4 separate regions of the Homo sapiens genome follow, and all the other regions are reported to be linked to region 2. The links are microRNA targets in miRTarBase. Many come from high-throughput screens and were not tested one by one. Region 2 holds a microRNA gene; each other region holds the end of a gene's coding sequence. Distances are from middle to middle.
The links. The annotated mature microRNA hsa-miR-1226-3p reads UCACCAGCCCUGUGUUCCCUAG and lies in region 2 at 2,482-2,503, opposite strand. An mRNA with a match to its seed (bases 2 to 7 or 8) in the 3' UTR can be bound and repressed. Matches are read on the target gene's strand: a 7mer-m8 pairs with bases 2 to 8, a 7mer-A1 pairs with bases 2 to 7 and ends in A, and an 8mer does both.

Region 1 (7,152 bases), not on the chromosome of region 2:
TTGGTGGGTGAAGGGTGCTCCCTGGCAGGATATGCCCCTCTGCAGCCCAGAACATCCCACCCTTTCCAGACCGAAGGGGTGTGGATTGTCCTGGGACCCTGGTCATTGGGGTCATCCGCTAGTCGCAAAGGACGGCAATGCCTGTGGCCTCTCTTTCTTTCTTTTTCTTTTTTTTTTTTTTTGAGACGGAGTCTCGCTCTTGTGCAGAGAGCAGTGGCGCGATCTTGGCTCACTGCAACCTCCGCCTCGTGGGTTCAAGCGATTCTCCTGCCTCAGCCTCCCGAGTAGCTGGGATTACAGGCACCCGCCACAACGCCTGGCTAATTTTTGTATTTTTAGTAGAGATGGGGTTTCACCATGTTGGCCAGGCTGGTCTTGAACTCCTGACCTCAGGTGATCCACCTGCCTCTGCCTCCCAAAGTGCTGGGATTACAGGCATAAGCCTCCACACCCGGCCACCCCTGTTACTTTCTGTCAAAGGCGGTGGGTTCTGGCCCCTCCTTTGCACATGGAATATGAGACCCTGAGTAAGTGACCTGACTCCCTGGGGCCTCAGTTTCCCCATTTGCCCAGTAGGATTGTCGGGAGGGTCCGGTGAGGCCCCTGGTGTGCCCAGGCTCTGTGGCCAGCACGTCCACAGCCGGCACTGTCCTTCCAGGTCGGAGGAGCGGCCGGTGAAGAAGCGCAAGGTGCAGAGCTGCCACCTGCAGAAGAAGCAGCTGCGGCTGCTGGAGGCCATGGTGGAGGAGCAGCGCCGGCTGAGCCGCGCCGTGGAGGAGACCTGCCGCGAGGTGCGCCGCGTGCTGGACCAGCAGCACATCCTGCAGGTGCAGAGCCTGCAGCTGCAGGAGCGCATGATGAGTCTGCTGGAGAGGATCATCACCAAGTCCAGCGTCTAGGCCAGCAGGCGGCGGCGGCGGCGGGGCCGGGCGGCTGGTGGTACTGCTCAGGCCACCCAGGGCAGGCCACTCAGGCCAGGCGGGCAAGGGGGCCGCCCCGCGAGCGGAGACCGCCTTCCACCTGGCCTCTGGCAGGATGTCCCTTCTGAGGGGTATTTTGAGGAACCCCCAGGCCCTGGGGACCGTGAGGCTCCAGTCTCCAGCATGAATGCCCTTCCTCGGACACAGGCCAGGGCCTCTGGGGTTCACTCCGAGTAAGAACGTCCTAGAGCCACTCTCCAGTGTCGTTACTATCAATGATACTTGACGTGGCTTTGATATTAAACGTATACTTTTTCATTCTTGCCTGGAACGCACAGTTTGCTGTTGCTGGCTTGGTGAGGATGCCCTGATTGATGGATCCCGAAAATGAAAGCAGATGGAAACGGGTTGGGGCAGGCTGGAGCTGGGGGAGCTCTCTCCTGAAGGGAACCCTGTGTCCTCCCTCACCAGGACCTCTGCGTCTCTCCTTAAATGGCCTCTGACGCCTGATGAAAACCCCAGCGACCTTCCAGGAGGCTTTTATTCAGCTCTGTTTGGAGCATCAGGTGTTTCCACTGCCTCCTTAGCAATGACACTAATAAAAGTCGTAACACCTGTTCACATGCACAGCCCTGTTGAGTGTTCTGGGTGCTGGAGATATCATGGTGGATGACACAAAGGCCCTGGCCTCTTGGAGCTTATGCTCCCATGCGGGGAAGACACATGGGTCAGTAGAGAAATGGTTGCAGGTTGTGATAAGTGCTGGAAGGGAGGGGTTGGCCTGAGGACACGGAGGCAGACATACGTGGAGCTGGGAACAGTGGCCACACAGGGAACGGCCAGTGCGAAGGCCCAGAGGCAGAGGACACTGGAGCAAGCCCAGGAGCAGCTAGGAGGCTGGTGGCCAGCAGCCAGGCCACGGAAGCCCGTGCAGCCCGTGGGGAGGAGTGTTCATGCTTTTCAAGCTTAGTGGGAGTCTTTTGGCCAGTGCAGCTCTGGGTCTGACATCGGTGGGGGACAGAGGGGTGGTGGAGCGGCCACAGCTGCAAGCTCACCTCACTGCCGGCCCTTCCACCAGTTTCAAACTCTTTCTAGAAGCTCCAGCTTTCCCAAAGCTGAATTCTCTATGAGCCTCCTTGGCCGGGACTCGGGCGTCTGGTTGCCCTGGCTGCAAAGGAGGCTGGGGCCAGGTGTGTTTGAGTCACCTCCTGGAATTAGGCAAGTTGCTGCCCAAATAGAAGGTTGTTGGCAGGTGGGTCAGCAGGTGAACAGCATGGTTTGACTCAGGGTTCAGAAAAATCTCCCTCTGGCTGCCAAGCGAGCAGGCCGTGGAGACAGGTGCAGAGGCAGGTGTGGCAGCAGGCATCCTGCCAGGCAGTGCTGCAGTCATCCTGCGACAAGCAGCAGCAGCTCATCCTACCCTCTAGGGGGTCTTGAGGTCAGCCAGGCAAGAGAGCAGCTTGGACTCCACTGGGTGTGGGACCAGCCTGTGGACCATGGTGGTGTGGAGGGTGCCCTCGGCCTGCCTGTGTGAAGGAGAGGCCGGCGTGTTCTGTGGAGCCCAAAGGGGAGCTGGGCAAGCAGGATTCACTTCACTCTGAGGGTCCTGGAGCTCCCACCCTCCTCAGCCATCTCCCCAGAGCCTGTGTGCCGAGGACTCGGCCCATGTTGCTGTGGGATGAGAGGCAGAGTGTCGTGAGGGTGTAAGGAGCGGCGGCAGTGGTGGGAGGAGGGAGCAGCAGCCAGCGCTACGGTGCCAGTTTCCAGCTGCCAGATGACGCCGCTGACCCTGTGGTTGAGAAGAGATGCACAGAGCCAGCTCTTGCAAGCCAGTGTGGCTGCCATAGCACCTGCCGAGAAGCAGAAGGAAGGGTGGCCCCAGGAGGACAGAGGATGCGGGCACATCTGATGCGGGCCTGAGTTTTGGGAGCTTTTGCTCTAGCCAGTTTCCAGCTCCGGGACCCACCCGCCTCGTAGGCAAGACACCACCCAAGAAATCATTTGCTTAACAAACACACTGGGCTCCAACTGGACACCTGTGCCACCCTAGATGCTGGGAACCCAGCCATGACACAGGCACCTGCCCCCAGCTGCTGACCACTGAGGCTGGCTAGCAGCTCCCATGGGGCCAGTGTGGGGTTCCCCAGCCTCCTAACAGGGAGCCAGTCACAAGCCCTCGAGAGGGAAGGGTGCCCGCGGCCCTGGCAGGAAGGTTAGGCTGGACGCTCCCACAAGACATAACAGATGGAGGTTCTAAATGATGTAGCAACTTCTTCACCCTGAAACTGCTGTAGAGTCAGCCATGACGCACCGGTACTTCAGTAACTGCCAGGCATCCGGGACAGCACACCGCGAGTCGCTGCTGTGCTTGGGTTAGAAGTGGTTTGGTCTGTTTTCTTCTCGCCCTCTCTAATCAGAGTCAGTGATTCATGCCCTTCCATCACCTTAGAGAAGGGGCAGGCGCTGCCCGACCTTCTCCAGGCTGGAGCAGCATCGCCTCATGTCAGCAGAACTCAGCTGTAGAATATCGTGGGGTTGGTGCCTTTCATCAGCAGCATGTCCTTAACAACTTTCTGATTTCTTCCTTAGTTGTTGGTCCATTAAGGAGAAAAAAAATGATCTCAGCCATTGCTAAAATATTTGATAAGATTCAGCAAAGCAGCATGTTAACATTGAAAACTAGAATCAGGAGCCAGGCAGATGTGCTTGCTTTTCACCTGTAGTATTTCATGTTGTTTTGACGTTTTTAGCTAATGCATTAAGATAAATAAACAAAAGCCGGGCACGGTGGTTCACGCCTGTAATCCCAGCACTTTGGGAGGCTGAGGCGGGAGGATCCTCTGAGGTCAGGAGTTCAAGACCAGCCTGACCAACATGGAGAAACCTCGTCATTACTAAAAATACAAAATTAGCTGGGCGTGGTGGTGCATGCCTGTAATCCCAGCTACTTGGGAGGCTGAGGCAGGAGAATCGCTTGAACCCGGGAGGCGGAGGTTGCAGTGAGCTGAGATTGCACCACTGCACTCCAGCCTGGGTGACAGTGAAACTCGGTCTCAAAAAAAAAAAAAAATTAAAAAAAGATAAATAAAATAAGCAGGATAAGAAATGAAGAAAGTAGAGTTACCTTTGTTTTCAGATTTCATTTTTGTATACCCAGAAAGCCAAATGTACAAAAGACTGGGAGCTCTTTAAACCAGCTTAAACTTGTTGAAAATGAGGATGAAGAAATATCCCATTCAGAGTTGGAATGAATTTAACCCAGAAGGAACAGGACCTCTACTGAAGAGAACTATGCAGTCTTACTGAAAAATCTAAATAATACCTGAGCGCTGGAGAAACTTCGCACACTCCTGAAAGCTCCAAAGTCAATGTCATCATTTTATTAATGTCATTCCAAACATAGTCTCAATAATATCACTTCTTGGTTTTGACATGGACGCGATGATGTTTAAATTCATATGAAAAAAGAACGGGGCCAAAAGTCCAAGGCCAGTCAGCGTGAGAAGACCGCTCGGCCTCCCTCGGAGTCGGGGAGTTGGAACCGCAGACTGAGATCATGTGGCTGCTGGAGGCCAGGACGAACGTCGGGAAATGGAGACTCCTGCGTTGCTGGTGGGATGTGGTGCAGCCGCTTCCAGGAGCAATTTGGTGTCCCGTCCTAAAGCTGAAGAAACGCATTTCCTCTGGTCAGTGCCACTCCTAGACAGGCCACCCTGCGGCAGCCGTCCTCAAACTGGTCTGAGGACCCCTCAACGCTCTTAAAAATCATTAAAAGTGGGCCAGGTGCGGTGGCTCACACCTGTAATCCCAGCACTTTGGGAGGCCAAGACAGGCGGATCACGAGGTCAGGACATTGAGATCATCCTGGCTAACACGGTGAAACCCCGTCTCTACTAAAAATACAAAAAATTAGCCGGGCGTGGTGGCGGGCGCCTGTAGTCCCAGCTACTTGGGAGGCTGAGCCAGGAGAATGGCGTGAACCCAGGAGGTGGAGCTTGCAGTGAGCTGAGATCACTCCACTGCACTCCAGCCTGGGCAGCAGAGCGAGACTCTGTCTCAAAAAAAAATAATAAATAAATAAATAAAAATAAAATAAAATAAAATTCATTAAAAGTGCCAAAGAACTTTTGCTTATGTGAGTTCTAATGACCAATATTAATACACATTAGAATATCTTATTAGAAATTAAACCTGAGACCTTTAGAAAACATGTATTCATTTCAAAATAGCAATAAACCCATGACATATTAACATAAATAACAATTGTATGAAAAATATATTTTCCAAAACAAAAAGTTTTCGGGAGAAGTGTGGCATAGTTTTACATGGTCGTAAATCTCTGGCTTAAGAGAAGCCCACTGGCCTCTCAGCAGGCTCTGGGTCCGTCCACTTTGGGGGTGTTTTGGTTGTGAAGTATAGGAGTGAATGGAGAAGCTCATTCTTACCCAGATGTGTATTTGAAAAGAAAAGGAACATTTTAATAACCTTTGCAAATAATCGGTATATTCTTCCGTGATCCTATTCCAACACTGGACAGGTGGTGGTTTGTTTTTTTTTTTTGGAGACGGAGTCCCGCTCTGTCACTCAGGCTGGAGTGCAGTGGCGCGATTTCAGCTCACTGCAAGCTCCGCCTCCTGGGTTCACTGCAAGCTCTGCCTCCCGGGTTCACGCCATTCTCCTGCCTCAGCCTCCTGAGTAGCTGGGACTACAGGCGCCCGCCACCACACCTGGCTAATTTTTTGTATTTTTAGTAGAGATGGGGTTTCACTGTGTTAGCCAGGATGGTCTCAATCTCCTGACATCGTGATCCACCCGCCTCGGCCTCCCAAAGTGCTGGAATTACAGGTGTTAGCCCGGCCGACAGGTGGTGGTTTTTTACTGGCCGGTTGTGTGTGGAATCTGATACCCTATCAATGAACTTCTACTTCATTTCAGGAGAATCCATTGGTCCGTCTTGTGCTTCAAGGACTCTGTCCATCATGCCTTTGTGACCTCACACGCTGGGCCTTTGGTTCACTAAGTTATGCGGATATTCCAAATGCTGACACAGTTCCTTAATCAGTATTTTAAAATCACTTTTGGCGATATCACCAATCTTAGAAAAGTCTTTCAGTTGGAAAGGTGGTGAACTCATGGTGGTGTCTTTCAGAATTCTGATTTTTGCATGAAAGCTTGAATTTTATCATTGGTAACAAATGCTGTCAGCTATTTTCTTTGAATGAGACAGGCTCACTTTGTTCGTTTTCCAAAAAAAAAAAGTCTGCCAGGACACCCAAGGCTGAACAACCAGAGTTTTTGCACATCCTTTTTTTGAGTAAAAAGTGTGCTCCATACGTGTGTTCCAGATCCAGACGGCAGCTCAGCCCATTGCACACCTGCATTTCCTCAGCGTGGACGTGGGGCAGGCGCGCCTTCCAGTTGCTCGGGCAGGACGTTGAAAAGATGTGGACCCAGGGGTCAAGACCTCACACACTCGACCATTTTCACTCCATCACGGACATTTGGAAGTGACCGGCGTTTCACACTGCAGCTGTGCGGTGCGAAAACCCCTCAGGGCTGCGCCGGGGCTCGGGGCCTGCCTGCGTTCCTGCTCAGGTCTTGCCACATCAGTGCGCATGTCAGCTCCGTGAAGACCCCGTGAAGACCCCGTGATCATCAGACTATGATGAAAGCAGCTGCAACCTCAGGGACCCTTGGTGACCCACAGGCCGAGACCTGAGAACCACTGCCTGAATGCTGGAGCGGGCACACAGGTGACCTGAGCGAGCCTCGTCTGTCCTTGCCCGGTACCCAGAGCTGGCTCACTGGCGATTGGTGGACGCACGGGCGCTGTCACACAAAGGGGCCCTCCGTGTGACTGGGTGGCGTCATCACAGACAGCGTGTGGGAACCGTGCCCCCAAGCGGGCCCAGAGGGACTCCCTGCTGTCTTGTAGGCACTGGGGATAGGGTCAGGTGGAAAGCAGATACAAATCTTTGTCTTTACAGGGTTTCGAGTTGAGGGTGGGGCTAGACCAACAATAAACACGTAAGTGTCTAGTATGTTAGAAGAGAGGTGCTTTCCAGGGAAATAAGGCTGTAGGGGGATTGGAGCCGTGGGGTGAGAGAAAAGGCCTTCAAAAAATGTCATGTGAGCGGATGGAGTGGGAGGGGCGCCCTCACCTGAGCACTGGGAGCTGCACTGTCTAGGTGGGAGCTGGCTCTGAGGGCGAGGTGGGCCTGGACAGGGACAC
Region 2 (7,000 bases):
CCTGGAGGCGGTGCGGCAGGGAAGAGGGGTGCAGAGGCTGTGGCTGGTGAGCCGGTCAGGCACACAAGGGGCCCTTGGAGCGTGGACTGGTTGGTTTTGCCATTTTGTTGTGTGTATGCTGCTTTTCTTTTCTAACCAAGAGGCTGGTTTTGGCATCTCTGTCCCATTCCCTGGGATCTGGTGGTCAGCCCTAGGATAAAAAGCCAGGGCTGGAGAACAAGAAAGGGCCAGGAGATGGAATTCCTTCAGGCCGGCACCCACACCCTAGGACATGTAAGCCCTCATGTCCAAGGGAGCCTCATGCAGATAGTAGGAAATCAGGTCTGGAAATTTAAAAATAAAAGGCATGAGACTAAGGCTATCTGCTTCCCTTATGCCCTGACTGGAGAGGGGAGGGAGGAGAGGCAAGGCCCACAGAGGGCATCCCAGCTAGGCCTTGGGATGGCTGCAGTGAGGAGAAATCCCGGGAACTGTATTGACACAAAGATTCTTATTGCACTTGTATTTTTTGTATTAAAGTTTGCATGGTTTCTAATAAAGGATTCAAACATAAGTTTGTAGTGAAATGGCCTGGGAGATTCCAAGGGCTTCTCTGGAGGGGGATTGGCTGCAGTGTAGATTTGCCTCTGAGGAGGCTGCCCCAGACTTGGCCTCCTCATGCCCCCTCCTGACCTCTGCCCTTCTCTGGTCCTGGCATCCCTGGAGAAGGTAGGGGTCTTGACCTAAGTTTAGATTTGATCTCCATGTGCAGGGAGGCTGTCCTGGGCCTGACAGGTCCTCCCCCTTTCTGAGGTAGCAGTGCCTTGTGGAGGTTTGACACCATGTCCCTAGCTCCCCAAGCACACACCAGGAAACTGCAGGGGCTCACGGAGGAAGTGCTGCCTGGGCCAGGGGGACCAGCTTTCCTCCGTAGAGACCATGTGCAGAACACTTCTGCTGTGCCAAGAACATGAGGGAGCCAGTGTTTTGTCAGCAGGAAGAAAGGGCCTGCTGGGATGAAAGTGGGAAGGAAACAGGGTTGCGTAGTCAGGAGACACCTCAGGGGCAACAGCACAGGCCCAGAGTACCTGCTGCCTCCACTGCGTCTGTCCTGGGGTCATGAGGATGCTGAGGTTGACGACAGGTTCCAGGTCCTTTCACTCCTTTGGCCAAAGGTTGGGGGTAGGTGGCCCAAGTGGCGTGCTCTCTAGGTAGACAACAGGAGTGGTCAGAGTTCCCTCAAAGGATCCTCCACTCCAGAGCACCTGAGAAGGCCGGGACCAGAGGCCCTGTGTGATGTGTACTCCGCAGCTGTTTGGGGTGGGACATTTCTGTACTTCTCGATTTGCTTATGGCTCAGCCATTACCTGTGTCAGTCCATGATTCTGTTGTAACAGTTTTAAGAGTAAATAAATAAAGCTGCCTGATGTCCCATCACGCAGGCTTCGTGCTTCTGTCTCGTTTTGCATCTACCACCTCCCTGGATCTTCCTGCCCTCAGCTCAGCCCCTCAGCTGTGAACTTGTGGATGTGGACACGGGAAGGACCACTGTGCCACATAGCCCTGCGCCTTGGCTACCTGTGGAACTCTCCCCTAGTCTGCCTGATAAAGGGCTACTTGACACTTACTTGCTTACTTACTGTCCAAAACTACAAGGACAGTGACAGTTCTGACAGGCTTCCTGTGGTGGGTACCGAGAGCAGCAGCTGTGCCAGGGGACTGGGGTGGTTAACAGCACCGCTGCTTCATGCTCTTTCTTGGTGAAGGGAGGAGGTTCCAACCCCCTTCTCTCTTAAAAGACTTGGGGCCACAGCCAGCCCGTTCCCCAGCAATAAGCATCTCACTCTCTTCTCTACCTACCTTCCTCCTTCCTCTTTGGGGAACCGTGGCCCAGTGTATGGAGGCCCTGAGAGAGGAGCCCCTAGTGGACAGCAGTGGTCACAAGGGATAAATAGAACTTTATTTTAAATAAACATTTGCACTCTGTACACAGCCCCAGCAGAAGCAGGGCTCAGTCGTCAGCTGTCTTGCGCACATCAAAGCTGCCACAGGGTCCTCGCAGCAGCTCTGCCAGTAGCGCAAGCAGCTGCCCGTGCTCCTCCTGTACGCTGGGGGGAAGTGCAGCCAGCTCGCTGCGCAGGCTCCGCTCCACCATGCGGCCCAGGGCCCGCCGCAGCTCCTTCAGCAGCCGCACGGTACGCGAGTCACCCTCCAGCCGCAGCAGGTCACTGTCGCTCAGTGAGATGGTGGCCCGGCGCCCGTCATCTGAGGGAATGGAAAAGATGGTGGGGAACTGTGGTGAGGCCAGGCCCCGGAGGAGCAGCTGCAGAGCGGGGTGGGCGGGAGGCCTGCAGGCACCCACCACGGATGTGCACGTCCCCGTCGGTCAGCAGCAGCACAGCTAGCGGGTGCACCTGAGAGGAGTCCCGGACGAAGACGCTGCCATTGGACTTGACTGCCATGAAATACGTCAGCCATCGGCTCCGTAACCGTGTGGCCTCCCTAGGGAACACAGGGCTGGTGAGGCCACCCTTTTGGACCATCCCAGCTGCCCCATCCAGGCCTGCATGCCCTCACCTGTTAATGGTCGACTTGTGCAGCAGGATGTTGCCTGATTTGGTCCTATATGTGACGCTGTTGGGCTTGAACTTCCCCTGCCGGGTGACCTTGCCCTGCCTCACCTGCAGGGATGGAGGAAAAGACGGGTGGGGCTGAGCAAGGAGCTGCAGACAGGGAAGGAGGCTGGGACCTGGTGAACTCCATTCCCTCCCAGAGGCAGCACCTGGATGAGGTTGGGGTAGAGGCCGGCCATCAGCACGCCCTTCACCAGCTCCTCCTCCTCACTGTACTCGTTGCACTGGGCGGAGGCCAGGGTGCAGTCCGAGGGCTTCCCCACCAGGAAGGCCTCATAAATGTTCTCTGAGAACTGCTTGATGAGTCCTAGGGAGACAGAATGTGTGGTGGACCTACAGCCCCTAGCCACAGGCTGGAGGTGACAGAAACTCAGTGGGGGTGGGAGGGGCTCAGGAGAGCAGGTGTGGGCCCGACTGACCGTGGATGAAGCGCAGGCTGGGTGCGTACAGCAGGTTTTCCTCCAGGTAATTCTCCCGGGAGCTGCGGTCCTGCCAACGCAGCACCTCCTCCCAGCCGGCGACAGCCCGCACAAAGGCCAGGTGGTCACTGCCGCTGTCATGGCTCAACAGTGCTTTCACCTGGGAGGGGAGAAGAGGGCAGCCGGATCACAGGCAGGGGCTAGACAACGCCCCCTCAGAACAGCAGTGGGTGGACGGCTCCAGGAAGGAGCCAGGACTGACCTTGTCCACCTCTGCCCGGTTCTGTAGGCTGCTGCTGAAGGGGTCCCGGGTGAGGCAGGAAACGACCACCAGTAGTGGGTGCAGGCAACGGAAGATGGCAGCCAACACAATGGCCTTGGCCAACCGGGGGTCGGTGGAGATGTGAGCCAGGCGCTGCCCCAGGGTAGTCAGGTACTCCCGCTGGTCCAGCACCCCTGCAACGGCTCAGCTGTCAGTACCACCCTCGAGAGCCACTCCCCAGCCCAGCCCAGCCCAGCCCCTACATACCGATCTCCTGGAGCAAGATCACAGCCTCGTCCACTGCCTTGATGTTTGGACTGTCCACAGCCTTGGACAGGAACTCCACCGCCTATGACAGAGCCAGAGCCCGCCATGAGCCTGCCTCCCACCTGCCTGGTCCCCAGGCCAGCCCCTGCCCCGCCCCGCCGCACCGTCTTCTCAGGCATGTGGATTTTCGCTTGCAGCACCAGGTTCTCAAGAGGTGTGCGCAGGATCTCTGGCACTTGGAAAGGGACCATTTTCTCCAGCCGGCTTCGAGGGAACAAGTGGTAGGCAAAGCCGGACTGGCAGCGGCCCGCCCGGCCCCGGCGCTGGATCACATTGGCTCTTGATACCCACACTGTCTCCAGGCAGGACACCTGGAGGAGGTGGCAAGTAAGCAGCACACAAATGCCACTTCCTCAGTGCTTCCCCACTCCCTGAGTAACCCTCACCAGCCCCCTACATCAGGAACACTGAGACCCCACAAGCGCGGCCTTCTGAAGACACACAAAGCAGGTCTAAGGTAGATCTGGGCTGGGGACCACCTCAAAACGGAGTCCCTCCCCCAGTGGTTGGCCGGGCCCAGGAGGTAGGTGCCACCTTGGTCTTCAGGTCATAGCGTTCTTCCTTGTGCAGCCCACTGTCCACCACATGCACGATGTCATTGATTGTGATGGAAGTCTCAGCAATGTTGGTGGCCAAGACAATCTTGCGCACCCCAACTGGAGGCTGCTGGAATATGGCCTTCTGATCCATCATGGGGATGTTGGAGTGCACTGGTGGGCAAGACACACACCAGTTATGGGCACTGCTTCCACCAGAATTCCCCCCTGGAATGTGGGCAGGGCAAGGATTTTGACCCCATTTTGATGAAACAGGCGCAGATAAACACTATGCCCAGTGAAAAGTGCCACAGCTTGGTCAGAAACCGGGGCCCCTGGAGTCCCAGTTGGGTCAGTCCCTAGGACAGAGGTCAGGCTGGTTTCCAAAGGTCCCTGGTCCCTCCGCCGGGGCTCTCACCTGGCAGGATGAGGTACTTGCTCTCGTGCATGCCCAGGGCCTCCTGGAGGCGCTGCTGCACTCCTTTGATCTCCTGCCACCCAGGCAGGAAGCACAGGATCCCACCTGTAAAGGAGCCCTGGGGCATGAGCCAGCTGTTGCTGCAAACGTGGCCAGGGCTAGCATGGGACAGATGGGGAGGCACCCACCTGGTTCCCCGCGAGCATCGATGTGCAGAACCAGATCAGTCACAAGGTCCAAATCGAGTGCGCATTCATCCTCAGACTGGGGTGGGGGAAGAGAGGCCACAGTCACAGCCCCGGGGTAAGGGGTCATGCCAAGGACACAGCCACCTGACTCAGTGAGACGGAGCCGCTTGACATCAACTCCAATCCTCACGTGTGCCACGCAGGCAGGGTTAGTCCCCAGTTTCTATCAAGGAAACCGAGGACTGGGGAGGGTAACTTGCCCCAGGCACCAAGCCCCAGGGCCAGGGAGGAGGGGCATCCACGGAGGAAAGGCCAGGAGCCTTGGGTGGGATGGGGGTGTCCCTCACCTCATGGTGCCGGTGCCGGTGCAGGTACTGGTGCTTGCCCAACTTGGCCAGGATGTCCTCTAGGTAGTGCTCCTTGACTGGGTACATGAAGCCAGGCACCTTGATGACGGGGCAGCCACCAAAGTATCGGGAGAAGCGCTCATTGTCCCCTGTGGCACTCATGAGCACCAGCCGCAGGGCCGGGTTGAGCCGCTGCAGGCCCTTGAGCAGGATCAGCAGAAAGTCTGTGTTCACGTCCCGCTCATGCACCTCATCCACGATGACGTGGCTCACGCCCTCCAGGCTGGGGTTGCTCTGCAGCTTACGCAGCAGGATACCCACAGTGCAGAAGAGCAGGGCCCCGCCTCGGGATGGGGGCTTACTTTCCAACCGCACCTGGAAGCCCACATTCCGGCGCAGGGAGGGGCCCAGTTCGTGGCTGACCCGCTGTGCCACAGACACAGCAGAGATGCGGCGAGGTTGGGTGATGATAACATTGCAGCGGGCACCTCGGCCCTCGGTCACATAGCGCTCCAGCAACAGCTGGGGGATGCGCGTGGTCTTCCCACAGCCCGTGTCCCCAGAGATGACCACCACCGGGTGCTGCTCAATGGCGTTGAGGATGGTGTCCCGATGTGGGTCCACAGGTAGCTGGGGGGCCTCCTGCCAGACCGGCCCTCGCCGCCGCCACAGTTCTAGCAGACTCTGGCTGAGACGTACCTCCTCTGCTTCCAACAGGGGCACATAGGGCTTGCCTGTGATAGGGTCACTCAGAGGCCCTGAGTCCTTGCCCAAGGGCAAGATGTCATCACTCTGCAGCCGGAGTTCTGGGGCGATCCATGAACTCTCCACAGGGTACTGGAGGGCAGGGAGGCAAGCAAAACAATGAAAAAGAAATTCCTCATTCACACACAACCAGCCACTCTGCAGGATTCGCCTGGGTCAGATGTTGTGGCCCAACCCGCTGGGCAGAGGATTAATTTAGTCCATGACTGCCCCGGGATCCTTGTGGGCAAGACTGGGCTGTTCAGGCCAGGGGGATCCCAGGCCCCAAACTCAGTGAAGAGAATGGGGAGGTACTACTGCCTGTCGCAGGTGGAGGCCTTCAGTCTGGAGAGATGGAGGCAGACTACAGGGAGCAGGGGTGGTGAGGGATGCAGGGCCTCTTACATGGTTCAGGAAGGTCTCTATCTTGCGGAGGATGGGCTCGGGCACCTGGATGGTGCATGGTCGGCGCTGGGTCTCACCCAGCTCACGCAAAGAGGCCAGGTTATACATGGCGTGTGTAAGCGGTTCGTTGTTCCTGTCCACCAGGCCCAGGCTCTGCAGGGGGACATGCAAGACTCAGTCTATGCTCTGGGGCTCCCCAAAAACCAGCCCAGACAAGCTCAGGAGCTCCAACGCATAAGTTGTGCCAAGTAATCTCTAAGAGATTTTGGATTTTGGCTGACATGGTGATGGAGGGAGAAATTATGAACTAGGAAAATGTTAACTTACCAAAATAAACGTTTTAAAAAATGAACTAAAGTTAATTCAGGCCGGGCGCGGTGGCTCACGCCTGTAATCCCAGCACTTTGGGAGGCCGAGGCAGGCAAATCACCTGAGGTCAGGGGTTCGAGACCAGCCTGGCTAACATGGTGAAACCCCATCTCTACTAAAAATACAAAAATTAGCCAGGTGGGGGGCCGGCACCTATAGTCCCAGCTACTAGGGAGGCTGAGGCACGAGAATCGCCTGAACCCTGGAGACACAGGTTGCAGTGAGCCGAGATCATGACGGTGCACTCCAGCCTGGGCGACAGAGCGAGACTCTGTCTCAAAGAAAATAATAATAAAGTTAATTCAAGAAAAGCTAAACCTGATGTGTCACAGCAGAACAGCCCTACGTCTGGAGAAGGCCCTGAGGAGAAACC
Region 3 (7,152 bases), not on the chromosome of region 2:
AACACTGGGGCGGGGGGCGAGGTCTGCTATTCTCTCCACAAAACATGAAGGGGCCAGAGTGGGTGGAGAGACCATGAAAATAGACAGCTATGCAAGGTCGCATGACCAATGCCGGCATTTTCCACTTTCAGAATGGCACAGAGAGGTTTCTAGAGAAGGACCATTAGACAGCCGTCCTATGGTCAGCGCTGGATTCTGTGTTGTTCTGAGCTAAGAGCTTGTCCTCATCAGGGAGCTGGTCCACAAGGGACTTTCAGGAGCTGATGCAGAATGACCAGTTGCTCAGTGGTCCAGACCCACTCCCCATCTTCCTAAGGTGGCTCTTGGAGAGCCCAGGACACGGGGGTTGGCACGCGAGGCAAAAGGCTGAATTCAGACCCACACCTTGCCAGACACCCATCCAGAAGTGGCCTCTGTGTGTGGGTTGCTGTTGGCTGACTTGGCCATGAGGACTGAGGGGGCCGCAGGACAGACCAGGGCAGGAAGGAAAGATAGGGCAGGCCCAAGGGGAGCCGAGTCATAGGCTGGGTTCTCAGGGAAGGATGGCTGGCAGCTCCAAACCCACGGCCAGGGGACAGTGGACTCTGGCTCAGGACCCTGATACTACCTCACCTGTGGGCACGGCTCTCAGCAGATGCAACCTCAACTCCAACCTGAGAGACCAAAGTGGGGCAGGGCAGCAGAGCCCGGAGTCAGAGACGGCGCAGGCTCTGTGTCGAGTCCTCCAGAGGAAAGCTCTGCAGCCAGGGAGGCAGGGGCGACAGCAGGGACCAGCCACCCAGGAAAGGGACAGGAAAGGGGGAAAAAAACAGCAAAAGGAGCCAGGTTCCAGGCAGGGACTGGGAGTTTCTGAATGGAAATGCACGCCAGGCCATTCCCGGTACACCCATCACTGACTCCCAAGAGCTAGCACATCTGGACCCCTCCCACGGGTGCAACCCATCTGTCAGGAACAAGCAGCGCTGCGTCCCCAGGGGCTCCAGCGCCTACACTTGGAGGTGGGGCCGGTCATCCCCACCATACATGCAAGACGCACAAAATCCAAATAAAAGTCTGACGCACGGTGATAACTTCTGTTGAATGAGAAGACGTGAGTGGCCATCGTCACACACGGGATGAGGCCATGACCAGCACAGCAGCTGCTTGTCCCTCTGGCTGCAGAGGGGGTAGATCCAAAGCGTGGGGCCTGAGCACGTGGGGTCCTACCCGCTCCTCTTACAACGTCTAAAACAGCAAGATTCCGAAGGTCTTTCAGGTTCCCAGATTTGGACAGAAGGGCTGTGCGCTGCCTGCTGCAATACTGAGAGGAGGAAAAGCCTCCCGTGCTTGGAGGACTGGCGTTGCTCCTGGAGTCGGGACGGCCCAGTGCTAAGCACCAAGCTCACCTTGTCCCAGGAGAGGGCAGACCAGTGGAAATGCACTTTCCAGCCCACTGCCTGTCACAGCCACCTTTCTGTTCGTGCTTCCTAAACCGAACAAAGCTCAATGACAAGCAGGGGAGAGTGTGGAGACAAACGCGCTCGTTCTGGTGGGAGGAGTGGCGTCACGGCGGAGCCGGGCAGCAGAAAACTCATGCTTTGATGGTAGTCCGGCTCTCTACCCTACCTGCTTGTTTTTTCCTTAATTCCCACACTGTGACTCCTGCCCCAGCCAGCTCAGCTCCAGCTCTGCGGACACAGAGCTTGCCAAAGTCATGTCGACAGTCACTGCAGGTCCTCCTCTCCCTGACGCGTGTGGAGCACCTGACCCAGCCTGGCCGCCTCACTCCTTCCCTCGCCTCCCAGGCCCTCTGCACTCTCCTCAGCCCTCCAACACCTACAGTGGGCTCTGGGGGGTGCCCTGCAGCTCAGGCCAGACCCTCCTTGCGGCTCAGACACCCCCCTCCACTGCGGGCTCGCCAAGTCTCACAGCTTTCAGATTCTGCACATGCACAACCCTGCATCAGGGGCTTCCACCTGGGCCTCGCCCCTCAGCCACTGCTAGCATTTCTGCTCTCACTGCCACGTGTCCAGCGCTGAGATGCTGCCCGGGATGCAGGAGGCCCCATCAACGTTCACTGTAAGAAAACCCACATGACCACGCGTAACATGCCAGAGGAAACAGCTTTTTACAAATTAAAAGCTGGGATTTTTAATATAATCACCAGGTATAGTCTCATTAAAAACATGTTTATTCAATGAAACTACATAGCACTAAAATGAGAGCTTCCCAAAATGTAACCAGCAATTGGATCTAACTAACTAGGGAGCTTCAGAATTTTAATTTAAAGATAAAAAGTGTTCACTTGTGAAAAATTTACTATTAAAATAATTTTTAAATTAAGAATTTTAAAACTATACATCAATAGTAAAAGCGAATGAGCAAACTTACTCACATGCTTAAAGATAAAATTTGACAGTTTCATTTGTCTTCCTATTAGAACCCTTAAATCAGCCTCCTTCAAGCAAGCGCAGCCAGCGTGAGCCAGGGGACAGACACTTTCAGTGGAACATTTATGGCTCTGAGAACAGCACCACTCTTTTGGGGACAAGTCCATCACTGGAGCTCCCCGGCCTCCTGGAATTCAGGTGGCAATGTCCAACATCCAAACTCACAGAGCCTGGCATTCCGATGGGGAAGGACAGAAAGGCTGGGACCCTCTGCTGAGAAGAGGCTCCTTTTCCCAAGGGAAGCTCGCTGCTTCGAGTCACACACGTGTTGCTGTTATAAGGTCCTTTGCTTTGACAATTCGAGAGAGTATTAGAAAACACTAGCGGCGTGAGGTGACTACTGACAATCACCTCCTCTGTTTTCTGGCTCATGATTTTCCTAAAGCAAAGCCTCAGGCTCCCGGCTTCTATTTATATCCACATGTAAAGCCCCAGATCACTCGGGCACCTGCTTCCATTCATGGAATTCTGGCCAGCCAGTGGCTGATGCCTACACAAGCTTTTCTTCAAAAAGCCCCAATTTCTGACAGCCATGGCAGCTTTCCCTCCACCCCTATTTTGCCAAACCCCCAAATCTTGCAGATTTATATCCAGTGTGAGCACGGACTATGCTTCTTCCCAGAAAGTAGCCGCCTGCTTGCTTCTTTGCATTGACATTTGCACTGCTAAGAACAGCCAATCCAGAAAGCTATAATTGGTAAGCAGGGCACAGAGAAATTCAAAGCCAATTATTAGCCAAAAAATGGGACAAATGCCAAACAAGACAAGAGCTTCTTCCACTTCTGCTGTAGCAGAGAAACCACCACGAATTCAATTGAAGCGGCGTAACTGAAGGTCCCTGGGTCCACCTGTGGCCTGGAGGCGGCCGCCTGTTTCCCTGCTGTTCTTGCCACAACACCTAGGCAGAACATGGAGGTTCCACAGCTGCCTGGTGGACAGCAGCCAGCAGCCTGGCAGCGTGGGGCTGGTGAGCTGCTGCTGCTATCTACCCAGGCAACTCCATTTTGCTGAGGTGGTCCTAAGTAGCTGCATGTAATCTCTCCTAAGAAGCTCAATGTTCTTAACAATTTGGTTTTAACAGTTGATGGAACAGAAAGATACGTTAGAAAAAAACAAGGACTTTCTTTTCAATACAGAATTCTCATGCCTGTAAACACATGCCTGTATGAATAAAATCCAGACACAAAACCATACTGCTGCAACAGCATGATTATTTCCTGATCTCCAAAGCACTGAGAAGTCCAACATGGAATCCTGGAAAATGCACGATTATTTTGATCCTGGTTTGTTGGTGCTGTTGTTTTAGTTGTAAGAGCTTTCGTGAGACGAACGCATGTACTGCTCTGAAATAAGGAAATCGGGGCATCTCCTCACCTCTTCTTGAGGCTTCTATGTGGAGAGAAGAATTGGACAGTGTTTATTCATCTTTCTCTGCTGAACATGCATGTCATTGAAAACACCAGAAAATCAAACAGACGAATGTCCTCAGCACTACAAATTACATACTTCCCACTCCATCAAGGGAATGCAACCACACAGGGTCAGACGCAAACACAGGGGATGATCAGAGCACCCGAGTCCACACCATGCCGACACGGAGCCCTGCATGGTTGGAGAGCTCTGCCCCTCACAAGGGCAATCCTGACCACAGGGCAGACCTGCCCTCTCACTGCTGAGGACACTACCCGTGCAACCACCAAGGTTGAAGGAAACAGCTAGCTCTTTGCAGCCAAAGACATTAGGAACAGCTAAGATAATTAAAGATGGCTTTCTTTTTCTTTCCTCCCCTCCACAATGGGTTTGTGAAGTGCTCAGAGCAAAAGACACTCTGTGACTGGCCCAATGCCCAGCTGTGCTTTCATTTCATGATTAAAGCTGTTGGTTTCCTAGTGAAATGCAAAACTTCAGCCACTTAAATCTCGACTCCAATTCAAAACTCCTGGGAAACTTTATTTTCAAATTCTTAAAACAAGGAAGGAGGCAGGGAGGAAGGGAAGGGAGGAAAACAAGGACAGACGGAAGGAAGGAAGGAAGAGAAGGAGGGAAGGAAAGAGGCAGGGAGGAAAACAAGGACAGACGGAAGGAAGGAAGAGAAGGAGGGAAGGAAAGAGGCAGGGAGGAAGGGAAGGGAGGAAAACAAGGACAGATGGAAGGAAGAAAGGAAGGGAGGGAAGGAGGAGGAAAGAAGGAGGGAAGGAAGGGGAGAGGGAAAAAGGCAGGCGGACGCAAGGAGGGAAGGAGTGTGCATCTTCTTCGCATGCTCCGCAGCAGCGAGGCCTGGTAGAGCTTCCGCGGGGAGCAGAGCATCGTCCTCTGCACCAGCACTGGAACTACTGCCCACAGGCGGCTGTGGAGTGCCTGAACTATGGCCAGTGCAACCAAGGAACCCAATTTTAAACTCTATTACATTTTAGCTCATTTAAATTTCAATACCCACATGTGGCTAGGAGCTACCATATTGGACACAGTGGAGCTTTACAGTGGAAAACCCACAGTTCAGTAGGACTCACAACTGGCAGCCTGATTCCTAATGGACACAGTGGAGCTTTACAGTGGAAAACCCACAGTTCAGTAGGACTCACAACTGACAGCTTGATTCCTAAACCATGATGCTGAACCACAACCAGCTTGTTTTGGTTTTCTAGGCTTCAACAGAGATGAATAAAGAAATCTGATTTTCTTTCTCATTTCTCAGTTTTGACTGGCAACTTGATTTTCTGGGTAATAAAGAGAGTATATTATTTTGCTTTTGCATCTTATGTCATCAACAGCCTAAGCTCAAATCTCCCTTCAAAGGAGTTTGAGACGCTGAGGACGGCCACGTGAATCTTTCTCAACGTCTCTCTTAAAACATATTGTTCTGTAAATCTGTGGTAATTTTCTCCTTTTGCTATTTCTTCTTCACGTTCTTATTTTTTCTACTCTAATGTAGCACATTACTAAAATAAATACAGTAGGCCTTTAGAAAAACTCTTCAGCATAATGTAAGCCTCAATTAAACCACACCACACCAAACAGGGCCCAGAGCAGCGTGTGTGCACGTGTGCAGTTTCGACGTGCCCGCACGCACATAGACGTACGATGGGGAAATTCCCATGGAAACACTTTTATTTCTGGAAGTCAGAAGAAAAACAATGTGCACAACCTGAATGACACAGAGCGGCAGCGCTGAAACCACAGGGGCTGCCGAGAGCTGGCCTTTCACAGCAGACCACTGTTTTCCAGTGAGAATGGTGGGCCATTCCAAAACAAAGCTAAAGGGTTCCAAACATCCAGAATGGAAGCTGCTTCCCCCAACTCCATTACCTATACTACAGGATGGATTGCTTTTTGTGAGACCCCTTCTTCCACTGTGCAATTTTTGCATTATTTACCCTCCCCCGATCTTAAAGCTATATGGCGTCCAGGAGAGTGCGGCTGATGCAGCTTGGCCATCACTGTGATGCAGCTGGAGCAGAAGGCGGCCCGTTCACTTCAGCCAGATCCACTTGTCTCCCACCTCGGTGTTGTACCCAGGGCTGTACTTGCGGCCCGGCAGCTGTGGGGGAAAAAGGCATTGGTGCATTCTGTTTAACGTGAATGAATGTTTCCCCAGCTCATAGTTCAATGTCTACCCGGCAGATGCCTGTACTTCATGAGTTCCTTCAGCAATGCTGGTGAGCACATGATCTGTGGCAGGTGTCTCCTGTGAGTGCAAGGATGCCACAGGTACACAAACCACAACCCAGCCCTGCCTGCCAGAAGCTTCTGTCCTAGGGCTGGGAGCCACAAATGGAAACGAACTACTGAGTGTTCTCATTAATGTCAGGAGGGTGACAAGAGCCACAGGAGGGGGACAGAGAGCAATGGGTGGCACTTAGGGGAGGCCCTGAGCAGGGACAGCCACGCAGACACAGGGGTGGGGCTGGGACCCAGGAACCACAGTTCACCAACTGAAACACCGAGTTCTCTCTGAAAAAGCCCCGCGTGAAATTCCCTCTGAAGAGGGCCTGCAGAGGCCGGGCCGCTGGCTGTAAGGGGCCCTTGGCGGAGTAGGAAAGTGAGTTTCATCCAGGCCTTTTAAGTAGACATGGGCAGGGTTCAGGAAAACCAGCAAAGGAGGGGGAAGCACTGCAGGACTGACCCTAGCGGGAGCCACTGAACATCCAGGAGCGACAGGACGACAGAGCCCAGGAGGAGCGGATGCTGCCAGAGAGGCCAGTGGGGGGCTGAGCTTGGCAGTGATGGAGCTGCAGAAAGGATGTTACAGGCCCCACTTCTCCCACCATCTGGGAGAGATCAGGGGCTCAGGTGGCGGTCCACAGAGGCCAACCTCACAGGGCACAGGGAGATCTGGGGGGCAACAAGAGCCCCTGCCAGCACAAAGACGCCTGTTCATGAGGGTAGGCGGCCAGCACAGGGCTGGCTGAGACGGAAAGAGGAGTGTTGCTCCGCAGGACCACCTCGTTGCGGAGCCAGGAGAAAGCGCTCAGCACGGTGTGTGTCGCCCAGCGATGGCAGGTGGGAAAATGATGAGTTTTTTCATATTTTCAAATCAGCATGGGCACACAGTCAATTTGTGTACACACACACACACACACACACACACACACCCCTTCCAAATTCTGCCCTTAAGAACAGGTACTAAAACCATTTTTAAAAGAATCAGCTTTTCCTTTATCCTAATCAGCAGCAGGCATTCACAGCCATCCACACAGCCATGGCTGCCTGGATCACAAATCAC
Region 4 (7,128 bases), 150 Mb from region 2:
TCCCACAGATTTTTAATGAAGTGAGAGCCTCAACCCTCTGTGACTGCACAGATCTGACGGTGGGTGGAACCTGCCCAGCGGAAGGGCAAGGCCCGGCAGTGGGCTGGCTGCGTTCTGTGCCGTGAGGGCAGGCCCAGTCCACCCTTGCCTCTCTTTTATGTTCCGCAGGTTCTCCTCATCCTGACTGCCCTACAGCCCTCCATCTTCTCAGTCTTGGCCAACGGTGGGCAGATTGCTTGTTCGCCTCCCTATTCCTCTAAAACCAGGTCTCAAGGTGAGCACGTTAAGCCTCCTGTCCCATCGTGGGATGGATGAGACGGGGAGAGTCAGGAAAGAAGGGGCCCCAGAACAGACATTAGGCCAGCCTGACTTCTGCTCAGAGTGTTCAGAAGGGATCTTCGGGAAATCCCAACAGAGGCTTTAAGGAAACTATGACCTCTCTGATCACACAGAAGAGAAGTGAAACCCCACAGCTTGAGGCCAGCCCTGAGGGCCAACCCAGGAAGCCATGGGTTCAGTCCTCAGCTCCTGGGAGAGGAATGGGAATGGTTAAAAAACAGAAGCCCATGTTGATTGAACACACATAAGAAATGGACTGTATGCCAGCCTCAGAGCACAGAAGTAGACAGCCAACTTCCGGTTCTGGCTCTACCATTAACCCGCTGTGTTATTTATGACAATTTCGTATCCCTAAGTCCTGATTTGGGGATAAACTGGAGAAAGTGTTGCTCAACTCCCGTGCCCGGGCTGCTAGTAAAATACCACCTCTGTAACTCAGCATAACCTACGCTGTATTTCACCCTACACTGCAGTGATGAATTGCCACCTCCTCATACTGGAGACTTTTCTAATGACTGTGCTGACACGAATGTACTACCGAAGGAAAGACCACAAGGTTGGGTATGAAACTTTCTCTTCTCCAGACCTGGACTTGAACCTCAAAGCCTAAGGTGGATGGCTTGGACAATGAAAGGATGCTGTACTCATTAGAATACAAGATTCCTTTACTGTCCCTCAACCTTGACCAAATGGGAAGCATTCCCCCTTGTCAACACAAGCTGGCAGATACATTTGACTCTACAGATGAAGGTGAACAATGTTAGAATAAAATTGCTTTGGATCTTGCCTGGAAGGTGTTTTAAGTTTTGTAATAAACAAGATGATGTCTGAAAATGTGTAACTGGGCACCTTGCCTCTGTCCATGTCACTATTAACCCTTCAAGGTTGTATATTGCTGGCTAGGTGCGACAGCTCATGCCTGCTATCCCAGCACTTTGGGAGCCTGAGGCGGGAGGATCACTTGAGCCCAGGAGGTTGAGGCTGCAGTGAGCAATGGTTGTGCCATACACTCCAGCCTGGGTGATACAGCCAGACCCTGCCTCTGGAAAAAAAAGAAAGCTTACTGAGCTTTCCTAAAGCAGATGAAAAGAAGAGTATATAGTATTGTGTCTGGCATAAGAAAAGGAGAACTTGGTGAGGTGAAATAGCACCAGCCCAGAGTCTTGAAGAAGCCAGGGGCCCTGGAGAACAGATGGAAGGTGACCTTTCCCTGACAGGTGTGCTACTACGGCACCAACCACGCGGGGCCCTGGTGGTCTGGGTCAGCCTCACTTTGTGGGACAATGGCTTTTGAGTCTTCAGTGACAAGCTAGAAAAGGAATCTCCTGACACTGTGGTCATGGAGCTTGATTTCTAAGGAGAGAGTCAGCACGTGGAAGCAAAGGCACCGAGAGTCCAAGTAAAAGTCCCAAATCCATAAAATGCACCACACAGGTCAAAACACAGGACACGGCCGGGCGCGGGGGCTCACGCCTGTAATCCCAGCACTTTGGGAGGCCGAGGCAGGTGGCTCACCTGAGGTCAGGAATTCGAGACCAGCCTGCTCAACATGGAGAAACCCCATCTCTACTAAAAACACTAATTAGCCAGGCGTGGTGGCGCATGCCTGTAATCCCAGCTACTTGGCAGGCTGAAGCAGGAGAATCGCTTGAACCTGGGAGGCGGAGGCTGCAGTGAGCCGAGATTGCGCCACTGCACTCCAGCCTGGGCAAGAAGAGCAAAACTCCGTCTCAAAAAAAATAAAAATAAAAAATAAAAACACCACTGGACATGGAACATCAGGTAAAACCACACTGCCTTTATTTGGCTAAAGAACAAAATCCAAAATAACTCAGAACAAACTAAGAACAGACAGGAAAATTACAGACTGAACCCCACTTGAGGAAGACTTCCCCACGGACTCACACTGGTGATGGGGCGAACGTTCAAGACGAAGCCAGCAGTCCTTTCCAAGACTCTTTTGTCTTTTAGGGATCCTCAATACAAAACAACCCAACTAATCCAGGATATGTGTTCAAAACAGTCAGTTTTCCCCCTCAAAAGGCGGGAAGGCCCACTTCAAACCTCCAGGAACACAACCCAAGTCATCCCAGTGTTAAACCTGGTGCTTCCGTTTTCTGCCTCAATCCGAGCGCTAACATAAAATCTTGGCAGACAACAATCTTTCTTCTTCAAGAAAATTAACATTTAATGGTATAATCCCAAGAACATGTTCTACTTATTTACTTGGAAAAATAGAAGCTAGGGACCACTCTTTATCCGATGGCAGTCTATTCTATGAGAGAAAACAAGAACAATCATTGTTATGACTTTGAAAAATAGAACCTTTAAAAATACTTATATTGGTAAGCTTAAAAAAATATCATCAGTTAAAAACATTAAGGGGGCTTTCTTTTTCTACCTGTATTGGTTCAACTTCTGGTGAGAATGTGTGCTGATAGAAAATCTAGAAGCTATGGCTTTTAGGGAATTAAAGAAAAGCAGCAAAATATAATTGATTTGGAAAGATTTTGGATAAGTGATCTGGAACAGGATTAAAAAGGCAAAGAGCTCTTGAAAATAAGCTACCCATAGTCAAAATAATCCAGGAAGGGGGAATGACGCCCTATGAACCACTGTGGAAAGAACATCTAGAGATGGTCTGACCAGCTGTGCAGCCTCCAAAAAAAAATCACTATCGCTCAGGTGCAGCCCCCCAAAAACCACCATCACTCAGGTACAGCCTCCAAAAACACCACCATCACTCAGGTGCAGCCTAAGGAGTCATCAGTGATCAGAAAGTGGCTAAGTTTCCTTAGCCTCCCTCATATTTTTTCTCTTCTTCAGGATTTTCAACCTCCTCACATCCCTAACTTTCTTACCCAAGCCTCAGCAATATAATGGTCTTTGGCTCTAGCTATCAGCAATAGCTGCAAGAGCACAAATGATCCCTTCCTAGTCCTCTAAAGTGTCAACCTCCATTCTTCAGTGCTTCTGAATCTAGCATAAGACCAAGCTTTCCGTCCGGCCCACCGGAAGGCAGTGGCTGCGCCGGCACCTCCCCGGCTCTGGCCTTCTAATGTCTCACACACAGAGGCTCTGCTCTAAGGCCAACACTTCTGGCTCTCTCATCTTGGCCACATTTGGCCCACCCATGTTGACTGCTTTCTCGTGTGTGATTCAGGGAAACAGCTCCATAGCCTCAAACGTTAATATCTGAAGATTTAGATCCCAGGCATTGTGGTGGTGTGCACACCTCTAACCTCATTTAATTAGGCACAGATGACCACATTATGCAACTTCCCAACAGCTTTCTCCATCTACCCGTGCTAGTCCAGCACCTCAGACCACATTTACCCCAAAGTATCTAACAGGCCACACTATAAAAGATTTTAGCTTTCAGTCAGACAAATAGCTTTCAGTCAAAACGATTAGACTGAGGTGGTAGAAGCTCACCAAAAGGGGAAAGGGAGTTTCCCAATAACATGTACGTTTGCTGGCCCTAGCAGTCTCAGAGGCCTGTCAGCCTGCAGGTCCCGTTCCAAGCACAGGGCATGCCAAGAGCAGCCCACTGAGAGCAGAGGAAGAGGGCTCAAACATTTGGGACCCAGACAATATATTTAGGAGGTATGGCTCCAATAGGGAGGGAGGAGGAAAACCACGTTCCGGGCATCTCCCTGTCTATCCAAATACACTTGCATAATGTGCACTTGGAGGAACCAAGCAGATGGGCTTCAGCACAGACTTCACTGCCACACCACACCAGGGAGAATAAGTTAGACAGAAACAGGCAGCATTCCCAAAGAGAGAAGGCTGACGCAGAAAAGTTCAAAGATGAGACTATGTAACACTGGGTAACACAGGAAAACACTAACTTCAGCTGTTTCAAAGACAGACAGGATTCCAAGCCAAAGCTTGTATGACCAGATTTAAGAGTAAGAACTGCGCTTCAAAGAAGAGTTAGAAATGTCGTTGTCATAGGCGATCAGGATAACAAGAGGCTTCATTCTCCCTCGCCTCTGTGACGCTCTTTCTGGGTGATCCAAGTTTTGTTTTTTTTCTAGTTGATTATTTCTCTTTATTTCTGTATGTGTGTGTGGTTTTTGTTTTGTTTTGGAGACAGAGTCTCGCTCTGTCACCCAGGCTGGACTGCAGCGGCACCATCTCTGCTCACTGCAACCTCCGCCTCCTGGGTTCAAGGGATTCTCCTGCCTCAGCCTCCCAAGTAGCTGGGATTACAGGTGCCCACCACCACGCCTGGCTAATTTTTGTATTTTTAGTAGAGATGGGGTTTCACCACGTTGGTCAGGCTGGTCTCAAACTCGTGGCCTCAAGTGATCCACCAGCCTCAGTCTCCCAAAGTGCTGAGATGACAGGCGTGAGCCACCACGCCTTGCCTGGGTGATCCAAGTTTTAAGAACCAAGGTAGTCCTGCTGTGCAGGCAATGATTCTAGCCTCTGACCCTCAGGCGGAAAACTAGGTGTTACCAGAAAGTGTTTAGGGAGTGGACTATGAGATGCTCACAGTCCTAGCAGAGGCAAGGAAAGAGAAAATGTGGTTTTCTTAGCTGAAAACACTAAAATTCCACCCCCACAAGGGGTATTTATGAGTGACAGGGGTGGGGCCTGGACATAAGCAATTTTCCCCTGGATCTAGCCACAGGATTACTGATGGGTGATGATCTGCTAGGCCGCGTAGCTAAGCAGCTAAGGAGACAGGAGGCCAGGGCTTTAAAAGTTAGAGCATGCTCAACAGCAAGTGCTAAGCATTAGCATTCTTTGATTTGAAAGTCAAGTGTTGAATCCCCCCGGGCAAGCCAACAAGGCAGATGGAACCACAACCACCAGGCGTGTGTGAAAAGTGGGGAGAAAACCTACCACACTCTTGTCACGTGAGGGTATGCTCTGTGGCTTGCTGGAGGAGCAGCAGAGGGAGGTCCCTGCCAGCTGCAGCTCTCAGAGGAAAAGAAAGATGTGGAGCACTGGTTCCAGGGAAGAATGTTCTGAAGAGGGACAGAGGTCAAGGTGATAAGGCTGTTGCTTTAGAAAGGAAGGTGTTTCCTATGCTTTTGCCTTTACATTCTGTGCAAATCTCTCTAATATGGCTATGACCAAAATGGATTAACATCAAGTTCCAACAGCAGACATTTACAAAGTATCCTTTGTAAAAGGCTAGGTAATATTAATAGCATTCAAATAGGAGTAGCAGGGCCAGGCACTTACTCCCAGTAGGAAACTAATCTCAATCGACTTGGTATAGGATTGAGTATTGTCCCGCTCCTCTCCTCATCATTGTAACTCTAAAAGTGTTCCTTCCTTCGAAGGTAGATGGCACGAAAGAGACTGACAAAAGCTCCCAAAGAACTGGGTCACAGAGTTTTCTGAGAAGATGAACACAGCAGAAACACTGCAGTTGATGCCATGGGTCTGCTTCCATCCCCATCAGTGTCTTCATGGACCCCATTGGGTCCAACAAGAAACTCCTCAGGGAGTAAGAAAAGTTAGGTTCAGATCTCCTTCCCGCAGCCACAATGACACTGGTGACAGCAGTACGTTCAGGGGATTTGTGACTGTAACTCTGCTTTTCGCTTTTCCTTAAGGAAATCAAAATTAAGATATTTCTCCACAAATTACCCATCAGCGTGGCTCATTTCGTGAAGGACTTGGCAAGCCACATAGCTTCAGAACGGAAGGCAAATGCTATAGTATACCGGGAAGAAAAGGCCTCTGCGTATTACACTACCTCCTTCTTCTGCCCACTCCTCAGGGGCAAAAAATTAGTTCTACATTTGAAAGACGAATTTTTTAAAAAATTAATGAAAATGACAATTTCCCTGTTGAGATCACGTGAACATAAACAGTGAAACAAAGCCCTTGGGGGGGGGTAAATGGATGCAGAGCAGGCTTCTAAGGTGCAGTCCCCCTCCTTCGTGTGGGTGAGTGATGTCACTTGCAGGACAGGCTGTTTGGGTTCCCCCAGTCCTAGGTCTTCTTTCCCCAGTTGTCTTTCCTTTGTAGCTGTCCTTAGGTTTAGTGTTGGGGTCACAATTTGGAATTCAACAGAGAGCTTCTGAAGGTAATGGGACAGAAAGGGAGGACAGGAAAGGAGGGAGGAAACATTAGTCTTCTTCATCCTCACTGATATCATAGGCTGCAGCCTTGTGCCTGGAGAGATTTGCTGGGGAGCAAGGTGGGGAAGTCTTGCCGGAGAAGGGCCATCGGAAAGAGGGGGAGGGGGAGCGCTCGCGAGTAGGGCTGCTGCTGGGGCTCTGCTTCGGGCTGATGGCCTGCAGCATCCGGCCCTTCCCCTCTTTCAGCATATGTTTCTGCAGAAACCGAAAGGAAGAGTCAGAAAAACACCGTGGATCCTACTTAATCATCACTGAAGCATCTAGGACTGGGATAGTCTATGCTGTACTATTTATTTAAGGGTTCTCCCCTGCTGTCATCACCCGGGAAATTCCCCATTCTTCCTCAATAATCTAGTCTAGGATTATTCTAATTTATCCAAACACCTTCACAGACAGATCCTTCCTGATATCTAACCTAGGACTCACTTGCTCAATCTTTTATTTGGTTGAAAAGACTGCTACTCCTCAAAGACAGAATTCCCACCTTACCTGGGGTTCCTGCTGCAGCTACTTGTAGTGGAGGCTGCTTTCTTTTTATTGTTCTTTATTCTTTCCTTTCCTTCTATCTAAAATCATACCACAGATAAAAGCTGGGCAAGGCGACTTGCTTATCTTGTCACCAGACTTTAAGGTTGAGAGAGAGCTGGCAAAATTATCTAGGAGAATGTGTAACGTCTTT

Region 1: miRTarBase lists MSANTD1 as a target of hsa-miR-1226-3p. Seed matches in the 3' UTR shown: 7mer-m8 at 933-939.
Region 3: the mRNA of NDUFA10 is a reported target of hsa-miR-1226-3p. Seed matches in the 3' UTR shown: 7mer-m8 at 4,746-4,752.
Region 4: miRTarBase lists PCYT1A as a target of hsa-miR-1226-3p. Seed matches in the 3' UTR shown: 7mer-m8 at 4,659-4,665.

The regions. Positions count from the first base shown.
Region 1 is chr4:3,255,067-3,262,218 of GRCh38, forward strand. MSANTD1 (Myb/SANT DNA binding domain containing 1) reads left to right here. Exons shown (of 3, transcript NM_001042690.2): 3 at 659-1,547. The coding sequence ends at 899. Among named protein-coding and RNA genes, the nearest start is that of MSANTD1, 9.5 kb to the left of the region's middle.
Region 2 is chr3:47,845,111-47,852,110 of GRCh38, reverse strand. It overlaps MIR1226 (microRNA 1226), which reads right to left and starts at 2,556; the gene lies at 2,482-2,556. DHX30 (DExH-box helicase 30) reads right to left here. Exons shown (of 22, transcript NM_138615.3): 10 at 6,259-6,411; 11 at 5,110-5,946; 12 at 4,763-4,838; 13 at 4,575-4,679; 14 at 4,155-4,330; 15 at 3,725-3,931; 16 at 3,561-3,642; 17 at 3,294-3,487; 18 at 3,032-3,191; 19 at 2,762-2,919; 20 at 2,557-2,660; 21 at 2,342-2,481; 22 at 1,918-2,244. The coding sequence ends at 1,991. It overlaps MAP4 (microtubule associated protein 4), which reads left to right. Exons shown (of 21, transcript NM_001385682.1): 21 at 1-1,416. RefSeq lists a silencer at 4,839-4,940.
Region 3 is chr2:239,955,220-239,962,371 of GRCh38, forward strand. NDUFA10 (NADH:ubiquinone oxidoreductase subunit A10) reads right to left here. Exons shown (of 10, transcript NM_004544.4): 10 at 2,153-5,967. The coding sequence ends at 5,899. Among named protein-coding and RNA genes, the nearest start is that of MIR4786, 16 kb to the left of the region's middle. RefSeq lists enhancers at 356-1,276, 1,277-2,197.
Region 4 is chr3:196,232,251-196,239,378 of GRCh38, forward strand. PCYT1A (phosphate cytidylyltransferase 1A, choline) reads right to left here. Exons shown (of 9, transcript NM_001312673.2): 9 at 2,118-6,644. The coding sequence ends at 6,438. It overlaps SLC51A (solute carrier family 51 member A), which reads left to right. Exons shown (of 9, transcript NM_152672.6): 8 at 169-274; 9 at 813-1,177. The coding sequence ends at 949. Among named protein-coding and RNA genes, the nearest start is that of SLC51A, 19 kb to the left of the region's middle. RefSeq lists enhancers at 302-371, 492-781.